Linked DNA regions of Homo sapiens. The protein of the gene in region 1 purifies or fractionates together with the protein of each later gene. This does not show direct contact. Each region holds a gene or a part of one and is shown on either strand. Other genes may lie near its edges. The genes, in order: PIANP, GALNT12, GALNT2 and GALNT4.

What was found.
Region 2: the proteins of PIANP (region 1) and GALNT12 purify together in Homo sapiens (affinity purification with mass spectrometry; 2 studies listed by BioGRID and IntAct, with this or other methods). This does not show direct contact.
Region 3: the proteins of PIANP (region 1) and GALNT2 purify together in Homo sapiens (affinity purification with mass spectrometry; 2 studies listed by BioGRID and IntAct, with this or other methods). This does not show direct contact.
Region 4: the proteins of PIANP (region 1) and GALNT4 purify together in Homo sapiens (affinity purification with mass spectrometry, with the first as the bait; 2 studies listed by BioGRID). This does not show direct contact.

The regions. Positions count from the first base shown.
Region 1 is NC_000012.12:6,697,796-6,704,658, reverse strand, and holds the start of PIANP (PILR alpha-associated neural protein isoform b precursor), read left to right. Parts: upstream 1-3,843; 5' UTR 3,844-4,045; intron 4,046-4,243; exon of another isoform or gene 4,244-4,524; intron 4,525-6,554; 5' UTR 6,555-6,597; coding exon 6,598-6,614; intron 6,615-6,863. UniProt on the Homo sapiens protein: Acts as a ligand for PILRA in neural tissues, where it may be involved in immune regulation.
Region 2 is NC_000009.12:98,810,658-98,817,680, forward strand, and holds part of GALNT12 (polypeptide N-acetylgalactosaminyltransferase 12), read left to right. Parts: intron 1-168; exon of another isoform or gene 169-180; coding exon of another isoform or gene 181-216; intron 217-1,456; coding exon of another isoform or gene 1,457-1,539; intron 1,540-7,023. UniProt on the Homo sapiens protein: Catalyzes the initial reaction in O-linked oligosaccharide biosynthesis, the transfer of an N-acetyl-D-galactosamine residue to a serine or threonine residue on the protein receptor.
Region 3 is NC_000001.11:230,259,226-230,266,248, forward strand, and holds part of GALNT2 (polypeptide N-acetylgalactosaminyltransferase 2 precursor), read left to right. Parts: intron 1-252; exon of another isoform or gene 253-356; coding exon of another isoform or gene 357-538; intron 539-3,347; coding exon 3,348-3,440; intron 3,441-3,696; coding exon 3,697-3,780; intron 3,781-6,015; coding exon 6,016-6,142; intron 6,143-7,023. Other genes in the region: uncharacterized protein LOC124904542, read right to left, coding at 357-538. UniProt on the Homo sapiens protein: Catalyzes the initial reaction in O-linked oligosaccharide biosynthesis, the transfer of an N-acetyl-D-galactosamine residue to a serine or threonine residue on the protein receptor.
Region 4 is NC_000012.12:89,521,784-89,529,457, reverse strand, and holds the start of GALNT4 (polypeptide N-acetylgalactosaminyltransferase 4), read left to right. Parts: upstream 1-4,661; 5' UTR 4,662-4,908; coding exon 4,909-6,645; 3' UTR 6,646-7,674. Other genes in the region: POC1B-GALNT4 protein, read left to right, coding at 3,563-3,577, 4,254-4,338, 5,018-6,645; POC1B (POC1 centriolar protein homolog B), read left to right, coding at 3,563-3,577, 4,254-4,338; POC1B-DUSP6 readthrough, read left to right, coding at 3,563-3,577, 4,254-4,338. UniProt on the Homo sapiens protein: Catalyzes the initial reaction in O-linked oligosaccharide biosynthesis, the transfer of an N-acetyl-D-galactosamine residue to a serine or threonine residue on the protein receptor.

The DNA.
Region 1 (6,863 bases):
ATAGTGATGAAGATACCAGCAGAGCCAGAAACAGGACAAGGATGTATAGAGACTGTATAGAGACTGTAGAGTGTGGGTAGGTCCTCAAATTCATCTGAAGTCACATTTATCACTGCACTGTCTCCCTACCAGACTGTAAGCTCCACCAAGACAGTGATGACTTCATTCTTGCTCTCCGCTGTATCCCCAGCCATGGCACGGTACCTGGCGTGTCACACCATTTAAATGACCATATTTGTATGACCAGCCTGGACAACGTGGCAAAATCTCATCTCTGCCAAAAAAAAAAAACAAAAACAAAAAACAAAAAAAAACAACCACCACCACAAATTAGCCTGGCATGGTGGCACACACATGTAGTCCCAGATACTTGGGGGCTGAGGTGGGAGGATTGCTTGAGCCAGGAGGTCAAGGCTGCAGTGAGCCATGATTGTGCCACTACACTCCAGCCTGGGCAACAGAGTGAGACCCTGTTTCAAAAAAAAAAAAAATGTGGAAAGAATGAATGAATCAAGAATAATAGAAATAATTAATGACCCAAGGTCCTCAGTGTCAAAGGCACTTACACTGAACATGAATATTCACTTGATAAACTTGGTCCATGCCAGTGACATGAGTTCACCTGGAGCATATCCTCAGGATGCTCTGGGGCTTAAGGGGCCCAGGAGGTGGCAGGAGTTGCGCACCTGACTCACATGGCCCCTTGGCCGGGTTCACATCCAGTGTGCCTTGTCTTTCCCCCACCACTGGGAGACACTAGGAGGACGGCTCACTCGCTGCTGTTCTGACCTCAAATGAAGGGCTGTCAGGGACACGCAAGCAAGAGGGCAGCTGCTGCAGATGCTCGTCAGAACAGCAGGCTTCCTTCCTTTCACGAGGCAGGAGCGCCAGGCTGACAACGGGTCACAATGCAGCAAATGAAGGAGGAGGATCTGAAGGGGTGTGGACATGAGCAAGGGCTCAACCTGAAGCATTTGGCGTAGGGCAGAGATCAGTAGGGGGCAGGCAGCTAGAGAGGAATGGCTGGAGGACAGCAGAGGAGAGAATTAAAAGAGTTCAGAGTGGGCAGGGGTCCCAGAAGAAGTTCATTAAGTGGTACATGTTGAGCATCTACTACATTCCAAGGCACTGCAGTAGGAGTAGGGATACACGGTAAACAAGACAAATAAGATCTTGGCTCTCTAATGTATAGGGGGGCAGGAGAGAGCAGACAGTAAATAGTAAACACATATATGATCATTTCAGAAAGTGATGAGTCGGGCCAGGCGTGGCGGCTCACGCCTGTAATCCCAGCACTTTGGGAGGCCGAGGTGGGAGGATCACCTGAGGTCAGGAGTTCGAGACCAGCCTGGCCAACATGGTGAAACCCCGTCTCCACTAAAATTACAAAAATTAGCCAGGCATGGTGGTGTGCACCTGTAATCCCAGCTATTTGGGAGGCTGAGGCAGGAGAATCGCTTGAACCCAGGAGGCAGAGGTTGCGGTGAGCCAAGATTGCACCATCGCACTCCAGCCTGGGCTGCGAGAGCAAAACTCCATCTCAATAAATAAATAAACAAATAGAAAGTGATGAGTTGGAAAGACAATGAAACATAATGAGGAAACAGAGTGGGGGCCACTTTAGATTTTGAGCAGGGATGAAGGAGCCAACCAGGTGAAGATGGGGAGAGGGGTGGCAAAACATTCCAGGAAGAGGGAATCAAAAGTGGAGGGGCCGGGCGCAGTGGCTCACGCCTGTAATCTCAGAACTTCGTGAGGCCAAGGCTGGTGGATCATTTGAGGTCAGGAGTTCAAGACTAGCCTGGCCAACATGGTGAAACCCTGTCTCTACAAAAAATACAAAAATTAGCAGGGCACTAGTGGGCACTGCCAGAGGGGTGGGAGGGCTGGGAAGGCTGGAAGGGCCCCCCTGCATGCACACGCTAGCTACTTGGGAAGCTGAGGCAGGAGAATTGCTTGACCCTGGGAGGCGGAGGTTGCAGTAAACTGAGATCGTGCCATTGCACTCCAGCCTGGGCAACAGAGAGACACACTGTCTCGAGAAAAAAAAAAAGTGCAGGGATGCTAAGAGAATGACTTCTGATGTTACAGAACAGCAAGTAGTCTGATCCAGCAGGAGCACTGTGTATGAGGTGGGTACAGGCTGGTGGGCTTCTCCTTACAAGGAGTTCAGATTTATTCCAAGTGTAATGAAAAACCACTCGAATATTTTAAGCAGAGAAGAGCATGACATGCTTTTGATTTTTAAAATATTATCAATATAGGAAAAACTAGTTTGTAAAGACAAGGGCAGAAGCAGGGACCAGTGAGGAAGCTATTATGATAATCTGGATGAGACATGATGGCTTAGACCAAGACTATAGCAATAAAGATAGAAGGAGATGAATTCGGGATATATTTTGGACGCAGAGCCCACAGGACTTGTTGGTGAATTAGATACAGGGAGAGAATCAGTGAAAAAAAGGGGAAGGGAGGGATGTTTCCTAGATTTTTAGCCTGAACAACTAGTAGTTGTGAAGCCTCAGGATGGGGATCACTGGGAGAAAAATGGATTGGGGGTGGGGGAATTCAAGACATCTATTTTAGTCAAGTTAGCTTTGCATGGCTATTAGACATCCAAGTGGAGATGTCAAGTAGGCTGTCGGATAAATGAGTCTGGCGCTCTGGATATAAATTTAGGACTCACTGACATTTACATAGTATTTAAGCCCTGGGACCGGATGAGATCACTGGACAGAGAATGTGGAAAGAGAGAATGGCCAAGGACTAAGCCCTAGGAGGCTCCAACATTTAGAGGTCACCCGAGGAAGACTAAGAACAGTCAGTGAGGTTGGAGGGAAATGAGGAGAGTGTGGTGTCCTGGAAGTGCCCTGAGGAAAAACAGCGTAGTGTGGTAGAGAGGGATGGGATCCAGGTGGTGGGAGAAGGGGCAGGAGAGGCTACTTTTGATAGAGACATTAGGGAAGGCCTCCCAGAAGGCGTTGGATCTAAGTGAGACTGGAATGAAAACAGTAAGTCATTGTGAAAAGCCAGGGAAATGTATTACTGAGGGAACAGCAAGTGCAAAGGCCCTGAGGCAGGTTAAACCTGTCTCCAACCAGGAAATCCACCAGGTCCCATGTGGCTGAAGCATAGAAATCTTTAGGAAAGGCAATCAGAGAGCCACCTAAGAGCCAGGTTATATAGGGTCTTGTAAGTCACAGCACGGAGTCTAGGTATTCCAGTGCTGGAAAAGCCCAGGAATTTCGACGTGATCCACTTAATGCATGGTAGCAGGGCCAGAGTGAAATAGGGGATCAAGCTGTGGGGATAATCCAAAGATGGTGCAAGGTCCTTCCTCCCCAGTCCTTTCCTCCACCCCTTGCCCCCAGCCTTGACCTCAGGCACTTTCTACAGCGGGCAAAACCAAGTTGGGGGACAGGCAGTGGTGACTCACGCCTGTAATCCCAGCACTCCGGGAAGCTGAGCGGGAAGGATCGCTTGAGCCCAGGCGTTCGAGACCGGGCTGGGCAACACAGCGAGACCTCATCTCTACAAAACACAATACAAAAGAACAAAGTTGGGAATGCAGAGCATTGAGTGACTCAGAATCTCAGAAACTGACTGAGGCGACCATGGGTGTCCCTGGAGTTGGGGTGAAGGAGGTGGGGAGACTGCCATCAGAACCCAGGGAAGCGGACGGTCGCTGGACCCTGCCAGCCTCTTCAGCCCTCCACCTGGGACATAGCCTGGCTTGACTCCTGCAGCGCGGCAGCAGGAGGGTTAAACCGTGCGTGGCCTCCGGCGCGGGGGGGAGGCGGAGACGGAGACGGAGCGGTCCCAGCCGCCGCGCCGAGCCCAGCCGAGCCGAGCCGAGCCGAGCCGAGGCGAGCATCTCCCACCGCCGCCGCCCCGCGCCCCAGGCGCCCGCCCCCCACCCGCTCCAGCGCCCTGCCGCGGGCCAAACCTCCCCACCATGCCCCGCACCCCGCCCGCTCCTGCGACCCCCCAGCCCCGCTCAGTCCCGAGCGCCCGCAGTCGTCGCGCCGCCGCGCCAAGCATGCAGGTGAGTGAGAGGGACCCCCACGCCCCCACCCGCGGGGAGCCCGGCCCTGCCCTTCCCGGCTCCGCGCCCTGCGCCTCCTGCCCCTCCCGACGCGGTCCCTCGCCCGGGACAAGGCCTCCAGCCTCCCAGCGCCCCTTCCCCGAAGGGCTCTCCATCCCTCCGCGGTCCTGGCTCGCTCCCGCCCTCCCTGGCGCAGCCGTCCCCGTCCCCGCGGCTGCCTCCATCCCGCCTCGGCTCGGCGGGCGGCTCCGCGCAGTCTCCTGCTTCGGGTCCCCAGTCCGCTCTCGGCACTCCCTGCCTCGGGGTCCCTTCGCCGACCTCCTTTTCCTCGTCTCCCCCCACTCTCGCCGCTCTCCAGCCCTGTGCGGGGAGTGCGGGCCTGCGGGATGGGTGGGATGGGGGCCACGCTGGGGCTGGGGCCCGGCTCCCGCACCCCGAGGCTCCTGCCCCACCCCCAGCTCGTCTCCTGCGCACAACAGGTCGGTGAGAAGCTGGGAGAGGGGTGGGGGTGGCGCGCCAGCCCGGGGACTGCGGGCTTCCTGGAGGGGGCGGCTGAAGCTGTGCGGGGCCCAGGGACTGGGTTGGCGCTGGCTGGGGGTGGGGATGCACAGGCGGAGGGGCGATAGTCCTAGAGTCAGCTGGCCACAGATGCGCCCTGGGAGCCCTTCTCCGCTTCACTGGTTCGCTCTACACGCCTCGCTCCCTCCCTCTAGCTTTCTTCCTTTCCCCTCTCTCTCCCTTCTTCCCACCATGCCCCCATCCCTATGTCTTTCGGTATCTCCACATCCCTTTACATTTGGGGGAGCAATTCCGAACTCCTCCATCTTTGCTGCTCCCGCCTCTGCTTCCCAGCCCGTTCCTCGTGTCATTTTTCCTTAAGCATTTATGTTCTCTCCTTCCCCACTTCCTTTCTCCCCATCCTGGGCTTTCCCCCCTTTTCTCCCATCCCCTTACTCTCCACTCCTCTGGCTGTCCTGCCTGGACCGCTCTCTCCTTCTCCTCCTGCCCCTTCTTCCCCTGCACCTGTGACCCCTTCATCCTCTCCGTTTCCCCTCCCTGACCTTTTCTCTCATCCTTTCCTCCCTTCGGCATCCTCCACAGTTCGAGTCTTCTGTACCCACTCTCCTCCTCTCTTCCCAGTTCTCTCTTTTTCAGGACTGCCTGCTCTCTCTCACCCTGCACTCCAGGCCAGCTTCCTCTTCACATTTCTCCTCTCTCACTCTTAACCAGCCTTCCATCTCCCAGCCCTTCACCCCTTCCCATCTCTCCCACTGCCTGCTTCCCCACGCCCTTCCCGTGACTTTCCCATCTTGTTCCCTTGTTGTTCTCTGGGAAGATTCAATGGGCAGATTTATTTATTTTATTTTTTGAGTCGGAGTCTCGCTCTTGTTGCCCAGACTGGAGTGCAATGGTGTGATCTCAGCTCACTGCAACCTCCGCCTCCCAGGTTCAAGGGATTCTTCTGCCTCAGCCCTCTGAATAGCTGGGATTGCAGGCGCCCACCACTACCCCCGGCTAATTTTTGTATTTTTAGTAGACACGGGGTTTCACTATGTTGGCCAAGCTAGTCTCGAACTCCTGATCTCAGGTGATCCACCCGCCTTGGCTTCCCAAAGTGCTAGGATTACAGGCGTGAGCCACTGCGTCTGGCCCATTGGGCAGATTTAGACCCAGAATCCACAGGAAACGGGTATCCTATCTTCACTCCCTCTGGGGAGCCTGCCCCTCCTGGATCCACCACCCTCAGCTCTGAGAACACACCCTTTCTCTTTCAAAACCAACCATCCCGATTTTCCCAGGATTCTTTACCCAGGAGAGCCACATTTGAGGGGGTGGTTTCTTCCTGACTCCACCTCCCTTCAGAGGGCACCTATGCACTTGGATGATTAAACATTAAGAGCAAAAATTATATTCTGTAGTTTTTCTCCCACTCACCTCTCTCTTTCTGTCTCTTTCCTTCCATCCCTCCAGCTCTTCATTCCTTTCTCCTGAAGATGCAGACTCCTGGGGCTAATCATAAGACAAATGCCTGGCACTGCCAGAGGGGTGGGAGGGCTGGGAGGGCTGGAAGGGCCCCCCTGCACGTACACACACTCACTGGCTTGCTCAGATTGACTTCCCCATCCCTCCCCCTACCCTCAGACTCCCTCCCTAGCGGTAGGTGCTCAAGGAATCACAAGGTTCTTGGCTCTAAATTAAGATCCAAGAAAAGCCTGGAGCTGTGGGCAGAGGAAGTGAGAAGAAGGGAAATCAGAGAAGCCAGAGTAGACCCTGGGGTGGAGAGGTAACAGGGACCTGAGAAGTTGTAGATGGGGCTGGAGTCTGGTCAGGCAACCACGCTGGAGTTTTTCCCCCAAAAGGATGCTAACAACCAGTGAATCCTGGGTGCAGCCGCATAGCTGGCAGCTGGGTGGCCTGGGAGGGCAGATGCGGGTAGAATTGGTGGATGAATTAGCTGGGGAAGTACACAGGGCAGGGCTGGGGTGTGACGGCCCCCTTTTTCTCCCAGTAAAGGCTGAAAATCTGGGTCACAGCTGAGGAAGACCTCAGACATGGAGTCCAGGATGTGGTAAGTTTGGCCCAGCAGAGGGAGCCTGGAGACCACATTCCCTGGGGCCATGACTCCTTCCTTCCTAGACCCATCCAGAGCCTTCCCATCCTGAGGGCCATCCTCCTTTGGAAGATGGGAAATGAGGCGAGTCTTCCCAAGGCCCACCTGCTTTCACAGGGAAACCTGGAGGTTTCTGGTGTGAACCTGTCCCTCCCTCACATAGGCCCACAGTAGGCCTGTGTCTCAGCCACGCTCTCTCCCTTCTTG
Region 2 (7,023 bases), on another chromosome or scaffold:
GTGGCACTGTGTCTGCCTTCTTGAAGAAGGCCAGACCACTAAAAAGACATTTTAGAGTACTGGTCCTAATTCTGTGAGAGCCAGTATAGACCTGGGCCCCTCTATGAATCTAATAATTTACATGCCAGTGGATTCGAGTATAGTTTTGTTAGTTACAGCACTGAATTGAAGAGGAGGCTAATGATGACTAGGAATCCTTCCTTGCATGGTAACATAGTAAGTATTAATATATATTAATATAAATAAGTATAGTAAGTAAGTCAGTAAGCATAGTAGTATAGTATGACTAGCATCTCAGCAAAGAAGGTGAATTTTTACTCTGAGATGATAGCGGGTCAAAGTGGGGAGACAGATAGTTGGGTGTGTGGCCCTGGGGAACTTTAAAAAATATATTGATGCCAGGAATCTTCCCCAAAACAATGAAATCAGAATATCTGTGGCTAGGACCTAGGCTGAATCTGATATGCAACCACGGGTGAAAGCTACTGGCCTAGAGCCTGTGGATTTCTGAGTCAGAAGATTTAGGGTGAGTGTTTTGGAGGGTGTGGAGAATACCAGAACTAGAGAAAGTAAGGATTAATAACAGGTCAAATGTAGTTCAAGCCAGTGATGACATCATAGTCAACTGAGTGGTGTGTCACAAGGAAATGGTTATTAGTAATGTTGTACCAAAATTTGCAAAAAGTTTTAGTTTCCATAGAATACGGGGAACTTGAGATGATCACTGTAACATCATTCTCATTTGCATTCTGATATTTAGTAGAAGAGAGAGTGGAGTAACAGACAGTGCCCTCAGGGCTGGACATTTCTTCAGGTCTATCTATGACAGGAATCCCATATGTGTGAACACCAGCCATTCTCTACCAGGGCAGAAGAACTGTGAACCATTGGTCAAGGAAAGCATGGTGTTTTTATTTCTTGACTTGCTCTGGTTTTAGGCTTGTTAATACTATAATTGCAGATGTGTGTCTGAGTTCAGGGGTCAGGATTTGGGTGCTGGGATGGCAAAGAGTCTCGAAGTCGTTCTTTTTTTTTTTTTTTTTGAGATGGAGTCTTGCTATGTTGCCCAGGCTGGAGTACAATGGTGCGATCTTGGCTCACTGCAACCTCCACCTCCTGGGTTCAAGCCATTCTCCTGCCTCAGCCTCCCGAGTAGCTGGGATTATAGGCAAGCGCCACCACACCCAGCTAATTTTTGTATTTTTAGTAGACACGGGGTTTCACTATGTTGGCCAGGCTGGTCTCAGACTCCTGACCTCAGGAGATCTGCCCGTGTTGGCCTCCCAAAGTGCTGGGATTATAGGCGTGAGCCACCATGCCCAGCCTCAAAGTGGTTCTAAACAGGTAATTAAGCAAAAGTATGTCTTGCTAGGGTTGCAGAAGGGAGTAGGACATTAGACTGATGTTTATTTTGTTTCCCCAACAAAGTTGTGGATATTTTATGAATTCTTATTAGATCCATCTTGAGAACATCAGAGTGGCATTCTTTCTTGAGTCAGTACTCCAGTACTTCAAATCCACAGAACATGTTCAATTTCGGTTAGTATTTTCCTGATACCTTTTTCTTTCACTCATTCTGTGTCCATATGTTTTTGGTGTGTCTTTGAATAGTATGTTGCTCGATTTTGTGTTGTCATTAAAAAAAAATCCAGGCCAGGAGTGGTGGCTCACGCCTATAATCTCAACACTTTGGAAGGCCGAGGTGGGTGGATCACTTGAGGTCAGGAGTTCGAGATTAGCCTGGCCAACATGGTGAAAACCTGTCTGTACTAAAAATAGAAAAATTAGCTGGGCGTGGTGGTGGGTGTCTGTAGTCCCAGCTACTTGGGAGGCTGAGGCAGGAGAATTACTTGAACCCAGGAGGCTGGAGGTTGCAGTGAGCCAAGATTGCACCACTGTACTCCAGCCTGGGCGACAGAACAAGACTCCATTTAAAAAGAAAAATCCAAACTGACAATCATTAACTTTTAACAAGATAGTTATATCCACTTACATTTATTGTGCTTACTGATGCTTTTGGATTTGATAGTGCTGTCTTATTTTATGTTTTCATTTGTTATGCTTTTTTGGTGTTTTCCCCCTCTTTTTTCCTACTGCTTTTTGAGTCGATAGAGGCTTTTCCCCTCATTCCATTTTTTTCCTCTCTACTAATTTAGTAGTTATATTATCTATTTCTAACCTTAGTGGTAAATTTTAAAGTACATATTTAACTCAACAAAGTCTAAAATTAAATATTAACTATGGACCATAGAATGCTTTAGTATTGATCATCTTCTCTCCTAATTTGTATGCCATTTTGCTCCAATATTTTAATTCTGTCTTGCTTTTAAACCAACAAATTAGAATAGCTAAAAATGCAGTATTTATTTGTTCAGATTTATCCACAAGTTTACCATTTTCTCTGCTCACTATTCTTTCCTGAGTCAGAGACCTTTCTGGGATTCTTCTCCTTCTTCCTGAAATACATCATGTATTAATTGCTGTAGAGAGGTCTATTGTTAGTCCTCAGTTTTCTTTATCTGAAAATGTTTTTATTTTGCTCTTGTTCATGAAAGTTTTGCTGGGTATATAATTCTACATTGGTAGTTTGACATTTGAAGGTATTATTCCCTTGTCATCTGGTTTGCACCATTGCTATGAGATGCCTACAGTGACCCAGATCTCTCTGTCATTCTTGTTTCTTTGTCATTCATTTGAGGTCTTCTTTTATTTAAGCATATTAAGCATACTTATTTTATACTCTATGTCTGGTAATTATGTTATCTAGATTAGTGTTTTCTTGTTGTTCCTTCATGAAGAAGACTTCTTTTACTTTCCTGTCGGCTAAGCCATCCATTTAAAAAATTTTTTTTTTTTTGAGATGGAGTTTTGCTCTTGTTGCCCAGGCTGGAGTGCAATGGTGCGATCTCAGCTCACTGCAACCTCCACCTCCTGGGTTCAAGTGATTCTTCTGCCTCAGCTTCTCCCTAGTAGCTGGGATTATAGGCGCCTGCCACCATGCCCTGCTAATTTTTGTATTTTTAGTAGAAACGGGGTTTCACCATGTTGGTCAGGCTGGTCTTGAACTCCTGACCTTAGGTGATCCACCTACCTTGGCCTCTCAAAGTGCTGGGATTACGGGTGTGAGCCACAGCGCCCAGCCAAGAGATTTAAAAAAAAAAAACTTTTTATCAAGATTTTTTGGGTGTATATACCAGGAGTGTTTCCCTAGACATCTTAGTCTTCCATGTTGCCAGAAGTAGAAGTCCTATATTCACTTTTTAAAAATAATTATTTTCTACACTAGACAGGATTCTTTTGGTTAAAAGTAACTGAAAGCCCAATGCAAACTGCCTTAAATATAAAAGAAAATATATTGGGTTCTATTATAGAAAAGTCTGGGATGAGAACTGAGTTCAGGTTATTCTGGGCCCTGGATTCAGGGACTCAATTGATGTCATCACGAAATTATTGATTGGTCAGGCCTGAGGCATGTAACCTTCCCAGGGGTAGGGGTGTGTGTCTGTGTGTCTCTGTGTGTATATGCATGTGCTTGTGTATGTTCAGCCCTCCACAAACCACATAGACTGAGAATTGGAAAAGGTTGGCTCTTGAAAGGGAAATCAAGATGCAGTGTACAGTGAAGAAAGGAGAAAGGATTCTAGGCAGGTAAGACACAAAAATGTACATCACGATCTCCTTGGCCTTTTCTACAGAGGATATGATTTGATTTTTTTTAAAAGACATTTATGTGATAACCTTAATATAAAGATAAAAGAAGATCAGGAGGGGCTGGGTGCAGTGGGTCATGCCTGTAATCCCAGAACTTTAGGAGGCCAAGGAGGGCGGATCACTTGAGGTCAGGAGTTCGAGACCAGCCCTGTCCAAAATGGCGAAACCACGTCTTTACTAAAAATACAAAAATTAGCCAGGCATGGTGGCGGACACCTGTAATCCCAGCTACTTGGGAGGCTGAGGCAGGAGAATTGCCTGAACCTGGGAGGCAGAGGTGGCAGTGAGCCAAGATCCCACCACTGCACTCCAGCCTGGGTGAAAAAAAAAAAAAGGAAGATCAAGAGGCATTTACTGTATCCATTAATTCATTCATATCCATATAATAAGTAAATATTCTACCAGCAGAGATTATTGTAGTCCCTACCCAGTAGGGTTGTTAGGAAGGCTACATGAAGTAATGTGTATAAAATGCTTATATGGTGCCTCTCCTGTATTAAGCACTCAACAAATGGTACTGTTACTACCAGGTAAAGTACAAGGCGTGCTGAAAATACAGAGACAAACACAGCTCAGTCTCTGCCCTTACAAAGCACATGCAATATACCAGAAACTTAGGGAAATGATTGTGTGCTGTGATGTAGCATTAAATCCAGTTCTGAGCTTCCTTTTGTCCTCAAGGCAAAAGTGGAACCTTAAAGTGATCCATAGCTGTCTTTGTATGATCAAAAGATGCACAGCTTTTTATTAGTCAGGAAAAGGAGAAAGTGTTTTTTTCTGGAAGCAAACTTAAAGACATTTCAAAAAGATATACAGACGATCTCCGATTTAAGATCGTTTGACTTAAGATTTTTCAACTCTATCATAGTACCCATTGCAACCAACCTGGTTTTCACTTTTGGTACATATTTGGTAAATTATATGAGGTATCCAATACTTTATTATACAGTAGATTTGTGTTAGATGATTTTGCCCAACTATAGACTAATGGAAGTGTTCTGAGCACATTTAAGATAGACTAGGCTAGGCTGTGGTGTTCAGTAGGTTAGGTGTATTAAATGCATTTTCTACTTAGAATGTTTTCAACTTACGATGAGTTTATTGGGATGTAACCCCACCGTAAGTCAAGGGGCATTGGTATTGAACCTCATAAAACAGAATGCCTTTAGGAGATGTTTTCAAAAAAGAAACAGAAACTATACCAGGACAAGAAAAAGAGAAAGGGCAGAGTATTAAATTATTGCTCAATGAAGGCATTTGCTGTGAGGAACTAAAGAAATATGATCTAATCTTTTAAAAATAATATTTCTTTGTGATTATAAAAATTATAGATGTTCATTTTAGGACAATTTTAGAATGCACAAAAATATAAAAAGTAAGAATCAGCAATAATCTCACTTCTTAGAGATCACCATTGATAACATTTTGGCATATTTCTTTCTATTGTTTATTGTTTATGCGTGAACGCGCTCACATACACGTTGTTGTTTCTAGAATTGGCTATCTGTAGATTTCTATCCTGCCTTTTTGATTTAACATTATAGTGTGACCATTCTCCTTTATCATTAAATATTCTCTAAAAAATGTTATTTTGTTGTTTTACGTGGTGCCTCTCATGTAGTAAACACTCAACAAAGGGTACTGTTATTACCAGGTAAAGTACAAGGCGTGCTGAAAATACATGGCCATGATTTCCTCATGCAGCCATACTATACTATATTTTCTTCTTGTTCGACATTGAAATTGTTTGCAGCTTTTTGCTATTATAAATAATGTTACAAAGAAAAATTTTTACAACAAGCCTCCTTCAGGGTATTCTGACTATTTACTTAGGCAAGAAATGTTTATGTATGTTGATATGAGATCAAAGAAAAGAGGAACATTTTAAAGCTCTGAATATTAATTGAAAAATTGGCACCCAGCCTTCTTGTGATTTAGATGGCACAAATGAAGAGCCCACCTAGACATTCTAGAATGGTGGCCCTAGGCTATTGGTTTTAGTGGAAACACATTAAAAAAAGAAAAAAAAAAAAAAAGCAGGGCTGACAAGAGAAGAAATAAATTTTCATCCAAAATACTAAGGATGTGATTTCAGACTAAAGGATTGTTCTCTACATTGAATGCACCTCACTTTGAAAACCTCACTTCACCGTCCTTATTGTCAATTATTTCTCTTGAACTTGTGCATGTTTGAAACAAAGTTTTAGCAGCATCTTAAGAAAAAATATTTATTTTAGGTTTCACAGAAACACTTTTGTTTTTCATGTAGTGTAAGCAATTAACTTTTTTTTTTTTTTTTTGAGTCAGGATCTGGCTCTGTCACCCAGGCTGGAGTGCAATGGCGCCATCTCAGCTCACTGCCACCCCCGCCTCCCTGACTCAAACCATCCTTCCACCTCAGCCTCCTGAGTAGCTGGGACTACAGGTGTGTGCCACCATGTCCAGCTAATTTTTTTTTTTTTTTTTTTTTTTGAGACACAGTCTTGCTCTGTTGCCCAGGCTGGAGTGCAGTGGCCCCTGATCTCGGCTCACTGCAAGCTCTGCCTTCCGGGTTCATGCCATTCTCCTGCCTCAGCCTCCCAAGTAGCTGGGACTACAGGCACCAGCCACCACGCCTGGCTAATTTTTTGTATTTTTTTAGTAGAGACGGGGTTTCACCTTGTTAGCCAGGATGGTCTTGATCTCCTGACCTCGTGATTCACCCGCCTCGGCCTCCCGAAGTGCTGGGATTACAGGCGTGGGCCACTGTGCCCAGCCCAGCTAATTTTTGTATTTTTGGTAGAGACAGGTTTTTGCCATGTTGCCCAGGCTGATCTCCAACTCCTGGGCTCAAGCGATCCTCCCACCTTGGCCTCTCAAAATGCTGGGATTACAGGTGTGAGCTACCGCGCCTAGCCTCGCGGTTAATTCTTTCTGAGGCTCCTGGTGAGCTACAACTCAACACAATCTAGCTTTTCTATGCATCTTGTCTAGTATTCAGGGGCTTAATAATGAAGACGCAGTTATTAATATTTTTATAATACACACACATATGTTTTCCATTTGCTATAACATGTATTTGTTGGAGGGGGGATGTTTCTTTTTGTTTTTTTGTTTTGTTTTGTTTGTTTTTGAGATGGAGTTTTGCTCTTGTTGCCCAGGCTGGAGTGCAATGGCGCGATCTTGGCTCACTGCAACCTCCGCCTCCCAGGTTCAAGTGATTCTCCTGCCTCAGCCTCCGGAGTAGCTGGGACTACAGGTGCCCACCACCACGTTCTGCTAATTTTTGTATTTTTAGTAGAGACGGGGTTTCACTATGTTGGTCAGGCTGGT
Region 3 (7,023 bases), on another chromosome or scaffold:
TTTTCAGGATATGGAATATTTATATGTACTACCTAATGAGATATCTTGGGGCTGGGACCTAAGTCAAAGTACAAAATTTGTTTGTTTTATATAGACCTTATACACATAGCCTGAAGTTAATTTAATACAATACTTTTCATAATTTTCTGCATGAAACAAAGTTTGTGTACATTAAACCATCAGAAAGCAAAGGCGTCACTGTGACCGCCCACTGGATTCACCTTGCCCGCTGCCCAGATGGAGCTGACTTACCAAGATGGGAATTGCAATAGAGAAAGAGTTTAGTTCACACAGAGCTGGCTAAGTGGGAGACTGGAATTTTATTACTTAAGTCAATCTCCCCCAAAATTCAGAGGCTAGGGTTTTTCAAGGATAATCTGGAGGGAGCTGGGGACTAGGGAGTGGGTGCTGCTGATTGGATGAGGTGCAATCATAGGGGTGTGGAAAATGGTCCTTGTGCCTGCCGAGTCTGCTTCTGCATGGATGGGTCCACAGGACAAGCTGGAGATCTGGATGGAGTCATCAGAAGTGCAGAAGCCTGAAAAGACATTACAAAAGGCCAATCTTACGTTCTGCAATGGTGATGTTATCTGCAGGAGTAATTGGGGAAGTTGCAAATCTGTGGCTGATTTGTTAGTCCAACAAAGGCAGTCTGGTACCCAGACAAAAAGAGGGTTTGTTTGGGGAAAGGGCTGTTACCATCTTTGTTTTAAAGTTAAACTATAAACTAAGTTTCTCCCAAAGTTAGTTCTGCCTATGCCCAGGAGTGAACAAGGGCAGTTTAGACGTTAGAAGTTAGATGGAGTCAGTCAGGTCAGATGCCTTAAACTGTCAATTTTGTCATTGTTAAATTTTTTGCAAAGGCAGTTTCGTCACTATCTCATGTTGGTGCTCAAAAAGTTTTGGATGTTAGGACATTTTGGATTAGGGATGCCCAACTTGTAATAGATGACATTTAATATTTATTTAATACTTATTTAATACTACCTAAATACTTGCAAATACCTGCAAAAACAAGGAGGGCCTGGACAAAAGTGAGTCTCCCTCGGTGCCACTGTATCTGCAGCACTGAGACTGTTTGGTGTAGATACCAAATAAATACCTGAGTGAACCAATAAATAAATGAATAAAAGGAGCTAGCACTGAGTAGCACATGGAGATCATTCCTTGGGGCTGCCTAGTTATCCTTTTCTATTACAAAGACAGAAAAGAGTTGCTTTGCGTTTAGGAATTTTTAAGTGATTTAGTCACTTAAAAACTTGAGTGATTTGAAAACAGTATGACTGGAGTTGATAAAACCTTTAAATCATTAAGGCTGAAAGGAACCTAGGACATTCTGGAATCAAATCCTTTCATGTCCCTGTTGGGGAAATCCAGGTGCCAGATGTTACAAGTATTTAAGTTAATAACTGGTTAAAAACTGACTAGGCATAGGTTAAGGCATAGGTCACTTAGCAAAACCCCACTAACAATGTTTAGTGGCTCTTCTGAGAAATGATATGTATGATCCAGTATCCCCCAGCACTTTAAGTACTCATTGTTGTATCTGTATATTTTTTAATAGAGAGAAAGTAAAAATTCATCAGTCTCATCACCAAACCAGTTGTGCCATAACACTCTCATAATTTGATGAATTCGTCTGTCAGTATCTATTTCTGTCTCTCTCTCTTGTTTGCTCACTGGCTCTCCTTCTGCCTCTACACACATATCCACTATATGCAATTCTGCAAACTATTTTATTTTCCCACAAGTCCAGGACATCATTTCTGTCAACATGTAAGATGCACACTCATGTTTTTAGTGGTCACAGAATATTTCATTTGATTCCTTCCTCATATTTAGTCATAAAGTTTCTCTTTTTTTTTTTTTTTTTTGCTATTATAAACAAAGCAGAAGTGAGCATATTTTCACATGTATATTTCATTCCTAATTGATTGCTGCCTTGAGATAAATTTCTAGAAGTAGAGCTGCTGGGTCAGAGAATAGGTGCATTCATATGTTCTTATCTGTGTTGAATGGCATTATGGATAATAGTCCATATTCTACTTACTAAAATGAAAAAGTATATATATCACCTTATATGAAAGATATAGGCCCCATACAGAAATTATTTTAATAATGGTATCTCAGATCAGTTGAAAGTTTCGCCATTTTAAGGAATTATTTTAAAAGGCGAGCATTACCTCCTTACTGTATTTATTTTGGAAGAACACAGTGCCTTCCTATGGGGTTCTTAAGGAGGGCTAGCTATAGCCTGAAGTGGGAGTCCACCTTATAGCCGAGACCAGAATATGGGAGCAAAGAGGTTAGCTGTGTGCTTGCTACTTCATGGATGCTTTAAGATAATTCTTGGCAGAATACACTGCTGATACCTATGCAGATGATAGCTTTTAATGCATGTCAGACATTCAAGAGTAGCTTGTCCCAGGGGCTTTATTTATGGCAAATCATGGTTCTCTCTATGAGATTTAAGTACATGGTTTTCTTTCCTTCTAGAAAAGCCGGCTGGGCGCGGTGGCTCACGCCTGTAATCCCAGCACTTTGGGAAGCTGAGGCGAGTGGATCACAAGGTCAAGAGATCGAGACCATCCTGGCTAATGTGGTGAAACCGTCTCTACTAAAATTACACAAAAATTTTAGCTGGGTGTGGTGGTACATGCCTATAGTCCCAGCTGCTCAGGAAGCTCAGGCAGGAGAATCGCTTGAACCCGGGAGGCGGAGGTTTCAGTGAGCCGAGATCTCGCCACTGCACTCCAGCTTGGCAGCAGAGCGAGACTCCATCAAAAAAAAAAAAAGCTAGTGCAAACATGGCAGTCTTTCAGCTTAGCCCCGCAGAAAAGAAAGTGATTTTCCCAGGAACTCTTATCTTATGTAGTCTGAACTTTAATGCAGAGCTGTCTGATAGTGTCGTAGCCGTGACGGAGAAGGCCGTGGGGCCTGGAATCTCCTTGCTGTGCTCTGTGGCCCCGGCCCTCTGTGGACGCGTAATGTGAGAGTTTTTAAAGAGTAACTTTCTTTTGTCCTTCTTTAAGATATAGACCCCAGTCCCTCCTTTAAAATATTGGCTCGTGCTGTAATTTCCACTTTGCCTTTTGCCCTTTGACCATCTGTGTGACAAGAAAGCCATTCCAATGGTTCAGTAAGCACCCGCTGAGGCTGGCTCCCCACAGGTCCAGCTCGAGGTGCTGGTGGGGACAGCCCACCCTCTGCTGTGTGCCGTGATCCCAGCTGGAGCTGCTGCACACCCAGAGGGAGCCGCCTCAGTCACACGCCAGCAGACAGGTGCAAATGGAGTGATGCAGACAGAAAGAAAGGAAATCACACCTCAAGATTTATTTTCTTTCTAGAAACACCCGCCGGGCAGCAGAGGTCTGGATGGATGAATACAAAAATTTCTATTATGCAGCAGTGCCTTCTGCTAGAAACGTTCCTTATGGAAAGTAAGTGGCAGTTCTGCCTTCTCACAATTACTGGGGATTCTTGGGGTGTGGGGGTGGGAGGTAAGGGGCTGCCCCCAGCGTTGAATTCAGCTACCCAGGTGCCAAGGCGGGAAGGGGTTGTGGGCACAGGAGCATGGGCAGTCCACACCACACCACCTGCCCCAACCCTGTTCTCCTCAGCAGATTTTCAAGTTTGATGTAGAAAGCCCATCTATTCTTAAAATTTATAAAGGAATCTTATTTCCCTCTTCTCCAGTATTCAGAGCAGATTGGAGCTTAGGAAGAAACTCAGCTGCAAGCCTTTCAAATGGTACCTTGAAAATGTCTATCCAGAGTTAAGGTAAGTCCCCAGGGATCTGGGGTTTCACTTTGTAAGGGCTTAGAAGCCAGTAAGGCCATAGAAGCAGCAGAGGGGAAATGGAGGTGGGGCTGCAGGCATGAGATTGGGCACCTGGGCCCCAGTGAGAGCCTGTGGTCTCACTCCATGGTGTGGAGCTGAGAATCTGCTCCCAAGTTGGCCTGCTGCTGTCTCTGTCCTGCAGAGCTGCCCTCCCATGCTTCGGAGTCCCAGAGGCAGTCCCCCGGGCCTCACCTTGTTTTTGGCTTGTTCTCCATTGGCAAGGTGATGGGCTGGGTGACCTGAAGGACTGGTGTCTGACAGGCTCTTCGAGTGACCAGGAGCAGTCCCCAGCCTCCGCAAGCATGCAGTGTCTGCAGCCAGCCCTCGATCCCCCCGCCAGGCGCCTTTGCATGCCTCCGATCTGCTGCGCTCACCCTTGCTGCTCCTGTGGGCCAGCAGATAACAGCCCCCACGAGGCTCCCTCCTCCCAGCTAGGTTAATCACATGTGAAACGGAAGTAATAATGCTGCTGCCCCACGTCCCTCCGGAGGATTCATGGCAGAAACACCTTTCTGAGCATTATTTCCACACCCAGCCTCTTGTTTTAAGCGAATACGAGCTCCCCATCTGGAGGGACCTGCTGATAACCTCGTGAGAAGACCTATAGATCCGCTGGGGTGGAGGAGCCATCTGCACTTCATCTTCTTAAAGGGACTGTCAGGCAGGTCGTGCCTTAATGCGGCACATTCCTTATTCTAAATATTCCCAGAGCATTTTACAGCGGCTCACATATCTCCAGCACAGTGCCTGCGAACGCAAGACTTGCCACCATTATCTTTCCGCTAACAGCTCCTTCAGAGCCCTTGTCACGGAGATTTGTTGGACAGTTAGGTAATGCGGCCTCTCTCTGTTGCTCCTGTTCGCTCACTTGGCTCTTTGGAACCGTTTCCTCTGCTTTTCAAGTAACATGCCAGGCGCCAGGTGGCCCATGCCCCCTAGGAGGAGAACAGGAGAGAACACAGCGTCCTTCTCCCTCGGATCCCTGCCGTGCAGGACAGCTTTTGCTGGGGATTGAGAGCACCAGATGGTCACCAGCGATGGTCACCTGCAGCGGCAAGGGTGCACTGGTCACAGTTGCTGGTTGCAGGGCCCTGGTCTTCTTCCTGCCAGCTCTGTCCTCTCGGCCATGTGCACTCAACCCAAAAGAACCCATTCTGCCTCTGTGTCTGGCCCCAGAATATGATGTCTACACCTCCTGCCTGGTGTCCCTATACAACAGATTCTTGACTGTGGGCACTAAGGCGGCTGCTCATCAACTCTCCGTCAGCCAAAGAGGGGCTTCAATTCAGTGGATTTTAACCCAACCATGCCACTCACTTTGCTTTTTCAGTCACAGTTGACTGCCATTTCTCACAGAGGTCACCCATGGTTTGTAGTGACACTGGGCCCCGCACCCACTGAAGACCACATCTGAGGCACTGAGCACCATCCTGGCTGGCAAATCTGCTTCCCCTGTCTGTGGGGGGTGAGGGAGACATCAGCCTCGTGTTTTGTGTCTGTAATATCACCGCCGTTTACTGAGTGCCTCCTACGAGCCAGGCACTGGGCCGTGTGCTTTACACGAAATGTTCTATGTAACACTTGCAGCAGATCTGGGTAGCCCATAGCCTACCAAAGGGCAAATCGAGCTTCAGAGAAAGTGAGTCTTGCCTGAAAGCCAGCACCTGGCAGAGGTGGGCTGAGGTTTGGATCTGGTTCTGAAGCACGTTGTTCTTCCCCGTGGCTGTGGCTTTGTTCACATTAGACCACCTGACAAGTCTGCCCACCTTTCCCGTCTTTACTGGATAAAGGTCAGATCCTAAGTGTATTGGAAAGTTCAAGGCAACAGGATCTGACCACATTGATTTTCTAAATGACTTCCAATAAGACTAACATTGAAGAGTATCAGGAGCTTTTCCTTCCTTTCCAAAAAAAAAAAAAAAAAAAAATGACCTGATATAGAATATAAAGAATACTTCTGCAACATACAGTCTTAAAGTGTTGGAAGTCCAGAGCCTGGGAGAAATGCCGTGTCCCTGACACACACTACCTGTGGTAGGAAGAGGCACGATGCCTAGTCACTGGGTCTTTCTCTCGTTCCTGTCACCTGTCATGAGGCCACTGAGCAAAGGGGCTGGTGGACGGGAGCTGGTGGTCATGTGCAGTGAAGCAGGTGATTCTCACGTTGTTTTTCAGGGTTCCAGACCATCAGGATATAGCTTTTGGGGCCTTGCAGCAGGGAACTAACTGCCTCGACACTTTGGGACACTTTGCTGATGGTGTGGTTGGAGTTTATGAATGTCACAATGCTGGGGGAAACCAGGTATGTGCATGGGGAAGCCAGGTCACCTGCAGGCCCAGAGAGAGCAGGAGTTGGGGGGGTCCTGATGTTAGAAGTCCCAGCTGCCACCTTTCTCCTGGGATGGGTGATGTCTATGAGGAAGCACCTGGCTCCTGCTGGCCACAGCCTCTTTGGCAGCCAGCACCAGGGCCAGATAGAATGTCACACACTTTGGTGCATCAGCTCTGTCATCAGCTTCGGACCAGGCTCTGCTGCAGCGGCAAGGGTGCACTGGTCACAGTTGCTGGTTGCAGGGCCCTGGTCTTCCTGCCAGCTCTGTCCTCTCGGCCATGTGCACTCAACCGCAAAGCACCCATTCTGCCTCTGCGTCTGGCCCCAGAATATGATGTCTACACCTCCTGCCTGGTATGCCTATACAACAGATTCTTAACTGTGGGCACTAAGGCGGCTGCTAGTTATAGCCCCTGCCTGTTAGATAATAGCTTAAGATAGAAGATACTCAGTATTAATTGCTTCCATTGCACACATACACACCTTTTCTGAGAGGCATAAAAATGCACAACCGCCAGGCGCCGTGGCGCACGCCTGTAATCCCAACACTTTGGGAGGCTGTGGTGGGTGGATCACCTAAGGTCAGGAGTTCAAGACCAGCCTGGCCGACATGGTGAAACCCATCTCTGCTAAAAATAAAAAAAAAATTAGCCAAGCGTGGTGGCGGGCACCTGTAATCCCAGCTACCCGAGAGGCTGAGGCAGGAGAATTGCCTGAACCCGGGAGGCAGAGGTTGCTGTGAGCTGAGATCACACCATTGCATTCCAGCCCAGGCTACAAGAGCAAAGCTCTGTCTCAAAAAACAAACAAACAAACAAACAGAAAAACCCACTACCTTCTCTTCTCCCATC
Region 4 (7,674 bases), about 83 Mb from region 1:
CTTTCATTTTGTAAAACTTATTATTATAAACCTTGGCAAGAATGCAATGTTTTATACATTTACATAACACTTGCAATCACACAAAAGTCATGACAGTGATTAAGAGAGTGGATTCTGGGCCAGGTGAGGTGGCTCACACCTGTAATCCCAGCACTTTGGGAGGCCGAGACAGGCGGATCACGAGGTTAGGATATTGAGACCATCCTGGCTAACACGGTGAAAACCAGTCTCTATTAAAAAAAAAATACAAAAAAAATTAGCCGGGCTTGGTGGCGGGCGCCTGTAGTCCCAGCTGCTCGGGAGGCTGAGGCAGGGGAATGGCGTGAACCTGGGAGGCGGAGCAGCTTGCAGTGAGCCGAGATCGCGCCACTGCATTCCAGTCTGGGCGACAGAGTGAGACTCCGTCTCAAAAAAAAAAAAAAAAAAGAGAGAGTGGATTCTGGAGGCAGACTGCGAGTGTCTAAAAATCTCAACTCTGCCACTTCCTAGTTAGCAGTGTGCCTTGGGCAAGTAACTTAATGTCTTTGCATATCAATTTACTCATCTATAAAACGGAAATGGTAATAATAGCACATCTCTAATAAGATCGTTATGATCACTAAATGTCAAAATTTGTAAGGTACTTAGAAAAGTCCTGGCATGTAGTGAAAACATAGGTAGGTATATTAGTCCGTTCTCACATTGCTATGAAGAACTACCTGCGACTGGGTAATTTACAAAAAAAGCGGGTTTAATTGGCTCATGGTTCTGCAGGCTGTACAGGAAGTATGGCTGGGGAGGCCACAGGAAACTTACAAACATGGTGGAAGGCAAAGGGGAAGAGAGCATGGCTGCTCCATGGCTGGAGCAGGAGGAAGAGAGCAAAGGGGGAAGTGCTACACACTTTTAAACAACCAGATCTCGTGATAACTCACTCAGAACAGCAAGGGAGAAATCCACCCCCATGATCCAATCACCTCCCACCAGCCCCCTCCTCCAACACTGGGGATTACAATTCTACATGACAGTTGGGTGGGGACACAAATCCAAACCATATCAGTAGGTGACAAATTTTTTAAGATCAACTTTAGGTAATAGGATTAATATGTAGTTTCCCTCCCATCTTTTAAATTTAAAACATGTGTTTCTTGATAATTGAGAAAAAAAGTAAAAGCTAAACTTTTACTAAAACACTTAAATAAAAATCTATATTTTTTCTTCTTGTGAGCTAGTTTCTAAATCTCCAACTTCTTCCCTTTTCTGCTTCTCCTGTGCCCAATATTAGACGTAACATACCTATGAGTAATCCTGAGGTCCTGATTACTCTTCAGCTTCTGGCATTATTATTTTATTATTGGGGTGAAATACCTGTAATGAAATTTACCATTTTACCCATTTTTTAGGTGTACAATTCACTGGCATTAAGTACATTCACAATGTTGTGCAAACATCACCACTATCTATTTCCAGAACTTCATCATCCCAAACAGAAACTCTGCACCCATTAAACAGTAACTCCCCAGTCTCCCTTACCCCCAGCCCTAGTAACCTCTATTCTACTTTCTGTCCTTATGAATTCACCTATTCTAGGTACCTCATATGAATGGAATCATACAATATATGCTCATTTGTGTTTGGCTTATTCACTTAGCAAAATGTTTTCAAGGTTCATCCATGTTATAGCTTGTATCACAATTTCATTTCTTTTTATGGCAGGATAATATTTCCTTATATGTATATATCACATACATTTTGTTTATCCATTCATCTGTTGGATACTAGGATTGTATCCACTTTTTGGCTATTGTAAATAATGCTTGCTTTGAACACTGGCATCTGTTGGAGTCTCTGCTTTCAATACTTATGGGATATACCTAGCAGTGAAATTGCTGGATTATAAGGTAATTGTATGTTTAACTTTTTAGGAACTGACAAACTTTTTCACAGAGCTACATCATTTTACATTCCCACCAGTATCCAGCATTAGTTTTAAACATGGCAGGCTTTTAAAATAAATCAAGCCTAAACTGGTAATATGTAGCAAAACTAAGAGTCCTGCAACAGTTTGCTGACAAGTTGCTGATATCAACACTCTTAACATATCATCTCCTAGACTAATGCAGTGTTTCTCAACATAGACAGCTGAGACTCCCATAGTAATCATCTATGGAGCTTGTTACATCAGAAGGGCCCTGGATCCCACCTTGTATATGTTGATTCAGCATCTCTGGAAATGGAGCCCCCAAATCAACATTACAAATGCTAAAGCATGAGACTCACCAACCCTAGATTGCTGAGTTCTTGAAGGTAGGGGAAATATCTTAGTCATCATTGTGTCCCTCAAGGCCAAACATACAACAGATATTTAACAAGTGTATACTTAAATTAACTAATACTGTAATCTAAAGCCTACCTGTTTAGTTGTTAAGTACCATATTCAATAAAATTAAACTCAATCACTAGACAACTAGGGAATCTGTAATTAAGGTGTGTAGCATACCTTTCATTTGCATAAAACACATGTCTTACCAGCTGTGTTCTATCATGCCCTTTGATGTTGCTAAGGATCTTTACACTATATGTAATTTTCAGCTCAGAACATCACGCTTTGAGGCAGGGTTAAAAAAAAAAAAAGGATATGGACTTGGAATTAGAAGAACTGTCTCTGTGTGACCTCTAAGACCAATATCTAGGAATCAAGTTTATAACTTGGAAACATTGAAAACATTTTGTAATTCTACCAACTTCATTGTTTGGCTGAAGCACAAATGATACTATGTGTAACAAAGCCTGCTGTAGAAACGTGGTCTCACAAAAAACAAACAAAAAAAACCATGTTTCCAAGTCTTCCTAAAGACTTTAAGTATCCAGCTGTGTAAGTTTAGTGCTCTAAGGTATACGCAAATAAGCAGATGAGAATGGAAACATATCGCAGAAAATTATTAAGTGCATGCACAACATTTATTCATTCATTCACTCATTCATTCATCACGCACATCCAGCAACTATATCAATATCCTGCAGGGCACTGTGTGGAAAACAGTGGTTAAATAAATTCAAATCTGCCCTCAGGGGATTTAGTTCCTTTTAGTATATTAATAACTAGCAAGCTGCCCCTCTTCATGTCAAAGCTTTACGTCAACAAAATAAGCGGTAGGGGATCACCTTAAACGTCACGGGTGCTGTCTCTTTAAAACGTAATAGAACTCTGATCGCATCGATCACAGGCTCACAACGCCCTTCCATTCATCGCTCTTATTCCAGTCCTGGTTACTACCCCACTTCCTGACATCAAACCAGGGAGAACGCGAGTGTTAGTTAACATGGCTTGGTGTGTGGCCACAGCTGACCCGGCGCATACCTCCCGTCCTCTCTTTACAGGGCTGGCGGTGTCTCGGGGCTCGGCTGGCCATGCCTGGAGCGCGGGGTTTGACTGGGCCGCCGTTGTTGTAGTGACCGGGAGGCGCTGCCGCTCTGGGCAGACGGTTCCGGGAGCCGCACGGTCCCCTCTCCTTCCCCATCCTCTCCCCTCCCCTCTCCGGGTTCCCCCACCCACAGGAGCCTTGGGCCGACCACTCCCCCGATGGCCTCAGCCACGGTAAGGACGGGTTGGAGGTGGGGGGGGTCCCTCCCTGGAGCCTGTCCCGCGGGCTGCGGGGCCAGGTCCGGGCCGAAGCCGCACCTGGAGGGAGATGGAGGCAGGTGTCCGTAGCCGGGTCCTGAGCCCCTCGTCCCGGGGCGTCCGTATCTCACTCTCTGCCATCGGGGCGGACGGAGTGCGGAACCCAGACCCGGCTCCCGGACGCTCTTCCCCGAGTTCCGGAGCTCCGGACTGAGCTGGGCGGCCCCACGGCCCCCAGAATTCTCGGAGGGTTTCCGTGGAGCGCCTGCGTCAGAATCACCTAGGAAGTATTAAAAAAAAAAAAAGTACCAAAGCCGAGGCGCATCCTCGCACCTGCCTGCCTTGGGCCAGCGGGCGGGGCCCGGGAACGTGCATTTCAAAGGGGCCGCGGTTCCTGCGATGCGCTGGACTCTGGGAAGCGCGAACAGAGCGTTTTGCGGGCTCTGCGGGGAGAGCTGGCGCCGGCGTCTCCCTGTAGCAGGACTGGGCGCCGCGCCCGTGGGTGGGCTGCTGCCCGGCCCCGCCGCCCAGCCAAGCCGCCGCCTGGGTGGCCATTCCCAAGCCGGACTCCGGGGAAGTGGCAGCGTGGATCCCAGCCGCCAGAATTCGAGGTCTGCGGCGGCTTTCAAAACTTGACAACTTTCCTTTCCAGGAGGACCCCGTTCTGGAGCGTTATTTCAAAGGCCACAAAGCTGCGATCACCTCCTTGGACCTCAGCCCCAACGGCAAGCAACTTGGTAAGTCTTATTCTTGTTTTGCTTTTGTAATGAGACTAAACTCCATGGGCCGGAAACCTTTCCTCCTGTCCGGGCAGGGTCCCTAGGAGAACGGCTAAGGGCCTGTATGAGGGTTGAGAGCACCCGGAGACGAGGGCCCAGCGCGGCGGGGCGCAGCTAGGGCCCCCTCTGCCATCCCGGCCCCCAGCCCCCGGCCCGGCCAAGAGCCTCCTATCCAGCGGTCTGGGCCTGGCGGACGACTTTCGCAAACTAACCACCAGGAGGAGTGAGTGGGAAGGGGAGGGGTTTCTCCTCGGCCCGGGGAGGGTGGGGTGTTGGCTGGAGAGTTTGTGAAAAGTTGTGAGCCGAGCAGGAGGAAGTAGGGAGAGAGGAGTTGGGCTGTGCCGGAGGCCGAGGACCGAGAGGGCTCAGGTGACCCCTGGAAAGCCTGGGTGGCTGGAAAGGAGCCTAGCGCCTGCATGAAAGGAAGAACCTGCTGGGAAGTACCTGAGCTCGAGCTGTGGGTTCCGCCGCCCTTCCCCTGCGTGGTGGCTTGGTGGCCGCGTCTGCGCCTCAGCCCTGAGAATCCGGATGGCGGTGAGGTGGACTTGGGCAGGCAAGAGCTGCCTGCTGCTGGCGTTTTTAACAGTGGCCTATATCTTCGTGGAGCTCTTGGTCTCTACTTTTCATGCCTCCGCAGGAGCCGGCCGTGCCAGGGAGCTGGGGTCAAGAAGGCTCTCAGACCTCCAGAAAAATACGGAGGATTTGTCTCGACCGCTTTATAAGAAGCCCCCTGCAGATTCCCGTGCACTTGGGGAGTGGGGGAAAGCCAGCAAACTCCAGCTCAACGAGGATGAACTGAAGCAGCAAGAAGAACTCATTGAGAGATACGCCATCAATATTTACCTCAGTGACAGGATTTCCCTGCATCGACACATAGAGGATAAAAGAATGTATGAGTGTAAGTCCCAGAAGTTCAACTATAGGACACTTCCTACCACCTCTGTTATCATTGCTTTCTATAACGAAGCCTGGTCGACTTTGCTCCGTACCATTCACAGTGTTTTAGAAACTTCTCCTGCAGTTCTTTTGAAAGAGATCATCTTGGTGGATGACTTGAGTGACAGAGTTTATTTGAAGACACAACTTGAAACTTACATCAGCAATCTTGATAGAGTACGCTTGATTAGGACCAATAAGCGAGAGGGGCTGGTTAGGGCCCGTCTGATTGGGGCCACTTTCGCCACTGGGGACGTCCTCACTTTCCTGGATTGTCACTGTGAGTGTAATTCCGGTTGGCTGGAACCGCTTTTGGAAAGGATTGGGAGAGATGAAACAGCAGTTGTGTGTCCTGTTATAGACACAATTGATTGGAATACTTTTGAATTCTATATGCAGATAGGGGAGCCCATGATTGGTGGGTTTGACTGGCGTTTAACATTTCAGTGGCATTCTGTCCCCAAACAGGAAAGGGACAGGCGGATATCAAGAATTGACCCCATCAGATCACCTACCATGGCTGGAGGACTGTTTGCTGTCAGCAAGAAATATTTTCAGTACCTTGGAACGTATGACACAGGAATGGAAGTGTGGGGAGGTGAAAACCTTGAGCTGTCTTTTAGGGTGTGGCAGTGTGGTGGCAAATTGGAGATCCACCCGTGTTCCCACGTGGGCCATGTGTTCCCCAAGCGGGCACCATATGCTCGCCCCAATTTCCTACAGAATACTGCTCGGGCAGCAGAAGTTTGGATGGATGAATACAAAGAGCACTTCTACAATAGAAACCCTCCAGCAAGAAAAGAAGCTTATGGTGATATTTCTGAAAGAAAATTACTACGAGAGCGGTTGAGATGCAAGAGCTTTGACTGGTATTTGAAAAACGTTTTTCCTAATTTACATGTTCCAGAGGATAGACCAGGCTGGCATGGGGCTATTCGCAGTAGAGGGATCTCGTCTGAATGTTTAGATTATAATTCTCCTGACAACAACCCCACAGGTGCTAACCTTTCACTGTTTGGATGCCATGGTCAAGGAGGCAATCAATTCTTTGAATATACTTCAAACAAAGAAATAAGGTTTAATTCTGTGACAGAGTTATGTGCAGAGGTACCTGAGCAAAAAAATTATGTGGGAATGCAAAATTGTCCCAAAGATGGGTTCCCTGTACCAGCAAACATTATTTGGCATTTTAAAGAAGATGGAACTATTTTTCACCCACACTCAGGACTGTGTCTTAGTGCTTATCGGACACCGGAGGGCCGACCTGATGTACAAATGAGAACTTGTGATGCTCTAGATAAAAATCAAATTTGGAGTTTTGAGAAATAGAGCACAACAGCACTTTCGTCATGAGCTGACAGTAGTGTCAAGAAAGTCAAAGAGCCTTAAGAGCCTCAGTGAAGATTGTATTTTATTTTATCAAAAGCCACCTAGCAGTCATCTGTGGAGCACTGGAAAGCTGGGGTTCATTTTGGTATATCACACTGAAACTGGGTACCCAGAGTGCTGCTGTTTAATATTTCACAATGCCTTACTTATTGGTTGTTTTATATAAGAGTTTTGTCAATATGGTCTCTTCTTAAAAGAAGTTGACTATGAATTGAAACACACAAAACATTTAAGTGCCAGACTTAATATTAAAGAATGTAAAGGTCCAAGTAAAATGAGGTATGATTTATGTTGATGTGTAAGTTCACCGCACATCCCACTTTTTAACAAAACTCATGAATGTGCAGTTTGAGCCATTGCTATTTTGATTACATAGAATTTGTATTTCTTTTTTAGCCAGCACATTAAATTTTAGATTTTATTTTTTAATCTAATTTTTTTCTAATCAAAAAGAAAATTGAGCTTAAGGCAAAAGGCCTGGTTTTAGAGATATGTGTAATTGGAAGAGGGCATTTGTTTGAGTGTGAGTTTGGAGGCCTTTTTAACATGCAGACATACCCATATTTAAATGAAATGGGGAGATATTTACATTCCGTACTTTGTAAACTTGAGCTATTGGACTTCACTGATGTATATATTAATACCTCAGATTCCTCTGATTTTGTAAGCTGTCTTCTCTGTGAACGTGTTTGTGTGTGTAGGGCATTTTCTGATTGCACTTCCTTAAGTTATGAATGTACTAGAAAGGGACTCATCCAGAATACTATGCCTCCCTTTGTTAATGCTTAATCATTTAAAGTAAACACAATTGAAGCCTCTCTGAAGTTAAACCCAACTATGTTTATTAAAATGTGTGAAACTGAAAGTGGGCTAGGTTCTACCAAGGCTGTGGAACTCTCCTACGAGTTCTGCTGATCAGGAAATTTAAGAATTTATCTTAAAAATGCAAGGAAAAAAGACTGCCTTGGC